Linked DNA regions of Homo sapiens. The protein of the gene in region 1 interacts with the protein of each later gene in a biochemical or structural test. Each region holds a gene or a part of one and is shown on either strand. Other genes may lie near its edges. The genes, in order: AGAP2 and HOMER1.

Region 1 (3,828 bases):
AAGAGAGACCAAGAAAGAAGGAGAAAAAGACAGGTAGATGGAGAGATGGAGAGAGATAGTGACAGAGTGCCAGAGACAAAGCAGGACAGACAGATGGGGAGAGAAAGCAGAACTAAAGTCAGTGGCCCCGGAGCAGAGTGGAACAGAAGCCAAGAGCCATGAGAGTAGGCAGATCTGGAACCTGGGTCTGAGCACCCGGCAGAGAGCAGGGGCAGCAGGGATGGGTTATCAAGACCAGCGAGGAGCTGGACCTCTGGGAGAAGAAGGGAGGGTCAGGATCTGAGTGAACACGGGGGAAGGGGACAGAAGCTGGGGCGCAGGGCTGAGATGAGAGGGCCCTGGGGCTGGTGGCGGTGGGGGTGCGGGGAATCACTGAGGGACAAGAATGGGGATCACTATGGTCAAGGGCTGTTGGGGAGCACTTGGCAATAGAAAGTTATCGGGAGAAGGCCGGGCACGGTGACTCATGCCTGTAATCCCCACCGCCTGTAATCCCAGCACTTTGGGAGGCCGAGGCGGGCAGATCACGAGGTCAGGAGATCAAGACCATCCTGGCTAACACAGTGAAACCCAGTCTCTACTAAAAAATACAAAAAATTAGCCGGGCATGGTGGCAAGTGCCTGTAGTCCCAGCTACTTGGAAGGCTGAGGCAGGAGAATGGTGTGAACCCGGGAGGCAGAGCTTGCAGTGAGCCGAGATCGCACCACTGTACTCCAGCCTGGGTGACAGAGTGAGACTCCATCTCAAAAAAAAAAAAAAAAAAGAAAAGAAAAAAAAAAGAAAGAAAGTTATTGGGAGAAGGGGCTGGGTGGTCACAGAATCCAGGATCTGGGGAATCAGTGGGAGATGCTGAGATAAGGGGCTGAATCACTGGGGATCAGCGGGGCTGCCGGGTGCAGGGGCTGGGGTGGTAAGTGGAGTTGAGGGAAGGAAGAGGAACTAGAACGTCATTAGGAGAGGGAGCAGGAGCTATAGACATGGACATCGTTGAGAACAGGGGCTGGGGAAAGGAATTAGCTGGGGAACAAGGAAAGAAGGACAGGGGCTGGGGGATGTCCATCCACTCTTTCACTAAGTTGTGTGCAGTGGTAATGGTAGTCAAGCACTCAGCTCAGGCACTTTTCCTCCTGCTGCAGGAGTTAGGCCAGGGAGCTGATGTTGGGGATGAGGGTTCTGGGTGGGAGTGGAAGTGCCTGCCAGAGCCTCACCTTCAGCCTGCCCAGCCGAGCCTTCAGTCTTGGATGGTGTTGTCAATTTTTTCCTCCTCTGCTTCTTCACCATGGGAGAAGGAGGGGGTTCCCGACTCAGGGGGCTCAGGTCTCCAGATGGGGTACAGTCTTAGGGAGGAAGACACAGCTGCCTCAGTAGCCCCCTCCACAGATTTCCTGATTTCTTGATAGCCTGTCTCATTCCCTGAACTAGCTTTGGCATTTTAGGGCTCCCCTCCTCAACTGTCCCTCTCCAGGAGTTCCCCCTTGATCATTCCTGGGGATGCAGGGAGATGAGAGGTTTAGAGTCAGTCCTGCACTCAGATCCTGGTTCTGCCACTTACTGGCCTTAAGACCTTGAGCAAGGCACTTAATCTTCTGAGCCTCAGTTTCTTTATCTCTGAAATAGGGGTAATAATCTTGACCTGACAAAACTGTTGTAAGGATCATTTGTTTACAATGTTATTTGCATACTATATATATATATTTTTTTTCAAACATGTCAAACATGGCTGACTATGTACTAGACAATATTCTCAGTTTGTTTAAACCTCAAAGCAACCCTCTGAGGTAGAAACTATTATCTCCATGTTACAGATGAGGAAACTGAGGCACGGAGAGGTCAAGTAACTTGCCCATGTGGCAAGCCAGGATTCAAGCTCAGGCAGTTGACGTTAGAGTCCACTTGTCTTAACCATTATGATAGACATGGTATGATTGAACTTATTCATGTGTGGGGCTCCATGTGTTCACTCATGCATTTATTCCAGCCTCCAAGCCTTCACCCCATATTCATTTCCCACACTCATCCTATTTGGGTGTGGAAGACAGCAGATGGAAGGTCATCCCCACTGACCCGTGCTGAGGGCTCGGGCCAAATTCCGGTCTGGCTTCAGCAGGTGTTTGGATGTCTGATCTGGTGGTGGCTGCAGGGAACTGGGGCTGGGGCTAGGGCTTGGCATGGGAGTAGTGGCTTCTGTCGGAAGAAGATGAAACCTCAGTGAGCCTCTTTCTTCTGGCCCCATTCCTTATGTGGTCCCTCTTTATCACCCAGCTTCCTACTCGCCCAGTGCCAGCCCCCTCTTCCCTCTTACCCCTCTTTTTCCCCAGCCCTGGCCCCTCTTCTGCTCCTATGTCATAAACCTTACTCACCCAGGCCTTCACCCATCTGGACAGTGCTCATGTCCTTGACGAGCCCGTTAATGCTGGCTGAGGGGCCAAAGGCAGAGATGGCCCTCGGGGGCCGCTTGCCCGGGACTTTGACTGTTGTTCGCAGCAAGTCCATCTCCTTGCCGTGGGTACTGTGGATGTAATCCTGGAGGGGTACAGGGCCGAGAGTGTAGGGAAGGTTGGGGTCCTTGGTATGCTGGGAAGCAGTCAACATGGTACAGAATAGAGAGGGACTGGGGAGGGGTCTTGGGGGCCAAATGGGTTGTGATGAACATCTAGGGGATGGGCCCATCAGACTTGGCCCAGCAATTGTCTCCTCCAGAAAGCGTTCCCTTCCTGGGTGCTCTCCCACTAGACTGCAAGTTCCTGGGGCAATGTATTTACCTTTACATTCCTGGCATGGGCACATGGTGGGCTCTTAACACATGCCTGCTAAACTTAAGAGAAGAGGACTAGCACTTCCTAGAAATGAGGTTAGTGCTTTGTCAGAGGCATAGACAGGTAGAACTTGAGGGAAATCCAAAGCTGGCCAATGTGGCCCAGTCTCTGCCACTCACGTTAATACTGGGGTGGTAGAGTAGAAAGCCATTACTGGACAGGGTTACATATTTCTTCTTCCATTCTTTGTTCAAGGAATTGCCACTTCGTTTTAGTAGGAAGCTCTGGAGAAAGGGGAAAGACACATGTGGGAAAAAAGCCAACTAAGACCAGCTGCCCCTAGCCTGTCCCAGCCCCTGGATCACTCACCTGTTTGATGGGGATGGCTCGCCCACTCCCTGTTGTCTCTCCCCGACTATCCAAGCTTCGTTTCTCGGAGTCACTACCCCGACGATTCTGGAATGGTTATTGGAATCAGTTTGAGGATGGATAGAGGGATACACTGATGTGACGATAGGGAAGATAGATGAAGAAGGGCCCAACAGAGGAGTCTAGGGACTAGGGAAGATGGGCAGGTCATGGGGGACAGGAGGATGGGGGTCAGCATGTCCATGTCCAATACCGCAAAAAGGCTGGTCCTGCGCTTGGCTGCCCGGTGCAGGGACCCTGGGGTGCTCAATCCAGCCACTGCAGCTGCCTCGGCTCGGAGCTCCCGGTGACCAACATTCGGTGAGGACGGGAGGGAAGAAGAGTAGTCGCTAGTGTGGCCCCCGTTACTAGCCTGGGCACATATGGAAGAGTCAGCAGAGCTGAGATGCCCCCTACTCCACCAAGCTACACTCATATCTCGTTATGGGGAATTTGAGACATTCCTTGATCACCTCACCATTTATTTATGTTGTCATTAATAATTTTTAAAATCCTCACTAACATTGTGACAATGCTTTAAATGTTGTAAAGGTTGATTCACAAGTATTGTGTCATACAATCTTCCTGATAGCCTTGGGAGGTTAGGTGAGTTGCTTAAGGACACTGCAAATGATGTCTCAAATCTGGTTGATTTCCAGTCCA
Region 2 (3,328 bases), on another chromosome or scaffold:
TATTACACATTTTAAAGCCAACTAACGAAGGCAGCTGAGTCCCTCAGAAATTTTTCTTTTTAAGTTTCTAATAAATTTGACACACAGTACTGAAATACAGCAGCCCGTCATTGACAGGCTGGTCTAGCAATGTTAAGTATATTTACAGAATATGCAGTTACATTTATTTATATATTTTGCAAGAAATCTTTTCTGAATGATCAATGCATTTCAATTTACGAATAATAATGGTTATTGGGGAACTGTTTATTATAGATAATTTTAAGGTGTATAGCTATTTTAAAGGGGGTCCATTTACATCAAACAGCTGATCAGAGGACTCTATCTAAATTGTGATCGTGGCAGATAGAGATGGAGTCATGTACTCTATCTGGCTCTACACATCAATCACATCTTGATTCAAACCTCACAAGGCAATATTCTGAATTGTTAACTAGGTATTTCAAAACAGGAATTAAATTCAATAGGCTCTTCTCAGTGAACAGGTTTTAATGTTGTTTTGATGTAATTTTAAAAGACTTTTAGCAAACATGCATTTCTTTATATGATATATTTCTTTTACGAAGCTATTTTAAAAGTAAGCCAAGTGCTGTCTAGTCTGCTTATAAAGTAGGAATTGCATCAGAGTACATATATTCTTGCTGTACAATGCCTGTGATGTTGAGGAGGGTTCTTTTTTAAAGTGTATGCTTGAGTAACTGACTCTATGGAGTCTATAAATGCACTGACTTCTTGTTTGTACCCCAAAATGATCGAATTGTTAAGTACAAAATTAAGCTAATTAACCAATTTGTAACCATTTTTTCACTCATAAACAGCTACTCAATACTAGACAATTTTGTTTTTTATGTATGTGTATGTACGTAAATACATACATATTAATTTACATTAGAGTGAAAAATAAATGGTTTGTTTCTGAAGTTAGTTTCTTAAGTGAGTTTTCAGGTGTCTCTGAAAAATTTATAACAATCATGTATTATATGTGCTGTAACATCATGTACGTTACCTCCATCTATTTTAGGATATTTTCCTCACCTATATATTATAGGGAGAATAATTTAGATACACATGCTCAGAGCTGAGATATTTCTCTGATAAATCAGGTAACAAAATGTATTTGATTGATGGAATTTTGAAGTAAATGTGTTTTTATCCATCAGTTTCTGAGTAACAAAGAGCACCAAGTTTTAATTTAAATAGGAGATTTAACACTAGGGATCAGGGAGTTTAGTATGAAGAGTTAAAAAAATTTAAAAAACAGTGTAAGCTGTTGAAATGGCAAGTGAATTATTTTAATGATGTAATAAAATATTTTTAAATTTTGACATAGTGATCATTTAATGAAAAAACTCACCAAAATGTCTCCATTTGAATTGTATTGATAATGTGGGACATATGTGTGATTCAATATATACATATACCCATATGTATATACAGAAAATTATTTTTAATACTTTCCTACTGATAATGAAATTTAAAATTGGAAATTTTGTGAGTGTTTTTCTTGTCCAATAGAGCCTAATTGTTTCCTTTTTTAGTGATTTAACAATCTCTTGAGGGCTGCACCTTTAAATTCCCAGATTGTCAATAGACATGTACAGTATATGGGATAAGGTGGACACAAGTGCACATATAAATAAAATCTTCTTAAGACTTTTAACTATTCATTTACAGTAGGAGAGTATGTAGAAATCATCATCCACAAGTCATAATTAGGTTGTGTGCCTACTGTAGTTTTTTCCATTTCTGTATTATATAAACATTTGCATATTAAAATTTGATTTTTCCCAGAGACAAGTATTATATACTGTATCTATATTTAAATCAAACTGTGGTAATATATTTCTCAGAAAATAATGTTGGGGACTATAGCCTGAACATGTGGACTTGAAGCGACATGGAGGAGGAGGTTGATCCCATTGTGTATAAGTTAATATGTGATAACTATTGAATCTTGTACAAAAACAAAAATTGAAAAAAAAAAAGAAAAGCAAAAATACAGTTTTTATTTTGAAATACATTTGTTCTCTGGAGAATGTACTTTATCTTTTTTTCCTCCAGTCTTTTACAGATATTTAAAAGCATTTAAATGATGACAGCATTTACTTAAATCTTTCAGGTGCTACTGGATTTTGCATTAGTGTGTTATGTTGTGAAATCCTAACTTTGACATAAAAGGTTTTATAAGTATTCCCCTGCCTGGAAAATTAGTTTTTGTTCTCCTCTCTCTCTCTTTCTCTTTTCCACTTTCTTTCTGCAGACTAAAACATGCTCACGAAGTTGCATCTCTCCTTGTCTCTATAGAAGATCTCCAGCACCATCATAGATTTGATGTTCTGCTGTCATTGAACTGTTGGGAAGCAGTTAGAGGAAAAGCTCACTTTTTTTTTCAGGTGGAAATAAAAGGAACACTCAAAATTAAGCCAACACCACCACTACCTTTAAAAACTAGTTTATTTGCCCTGTTAAAATTAAATGTATTCTTTAACATGTGGGCTACAGTCTCCCATGTTTTTATTTAACTGAAGCATATACACTTCGGTCATTTATCTCCTTGTGGTCCTGATTTTGTCAGTACTGGAATGGGAGGCAGGTCGGGGAAAGTTTGTTTGATGGCAGTGGATTCTTATTGTTGTTTTAACCATTGCATTTATTTGATATCAAATGATTTTGACATCCTGAAATTCTGTGCTTGAAGTCATGAAATGATTTTCATTGAATTTTTGCCTCCTAAATGTATAGCATGAAGTAAATTAATTTATACAAAATCTTAAGAAACCTTTCAGGTAAGAAGTAGTTGAGATTGACACTGTTAGAAAATTTCTCAATTTCTAAATTTAGAAATTACTAGAAAAGGAAAGGATGTGTCATTCACCTTACTCCAAATTGCGAAAGTGTGTTTTTTCCTAATATTCGTGTTAAATTTTACCTTAAAATTTTTATGATAGTTTTTCTTCATGAGAAACTGATATATAGATGTCACGCAAATACAAGCAAAGTTACTGAATTAAAGTAGTGGGTACTTAGCATTTTTTGTTTATATATTACATAGTAAAATAGCTAAAAATCATATCCCAGAAAACTCAAAAACTCAGTCAGCACTACACTGCCTGGTGGTTTCTGCTTAGTACACTAAATAGAAAAAAAAAAAAATTTTAAGTGATTTTTACCAAAAACTTGAACTAGGGAGAAATTGCATCAGGACTAGAATAGACAGAAGGCCACAAACTCCTAGTCGACTTCTTGTCAAGTCTCTGATCTCTGTAAGGACCTCTCTTTTAGGTTAAAGGACACACTGCTTCTCGGCCTTTTGGCTAAGATCAGGTGT

The links.
Region 2: the proteins of AGAP2 (region 1) and HOMER1 form a complex in vitro, tested with the Homo sapiens proteins (one study listed by BioGRID).

Annotation. Positions count from the first base shown.
Region 1 is NC_000012.12:57,728,430-57,732,257, forward strand, and holds part of AGAP2 (arf-GAP with GTPase, ANK repeat and PH domain-containing protein 2), read right to left. Parts: intron 3,539-3,828; coding exon 3,380-3,538; intron 3,214-3,379; coding exon 3,127-3,213; intron 3,042-3,126; coding exon 2,937-3,041; intron 2,525-2,936; coding exon 2,362-2,524; intron 2,186-2,361; coding exon 2,066-2,185; intron 1,339-2,065; coding exon 1,210-1,338; intron 1-1,209. UniProt on the Homo sapiens protein: GTPase-activating protein (GAP) for ARF1 and ARF5, which also shows strong GTPase activity. Isoform 1 participates in the prevention of neuronal apoptosis by enhancing PI3 kinase activity.
Region 2 is NC_000005.10:79,371,960-79,375,287, reverse strand, and holds the end of HOMER1 (homer protein homolog 1), read left to right. Parts: 3' UTR 1-2,652; downstream 2,653-3,328. UniProt on the Homo sapiens protein: Postsynaptic density scaffolding protein. Binds and cross-links cytoplasmic regions of GRM1, GRM5, ITPR1, DNM3, RYR1, RYR2, SHANK1 and SHANK3.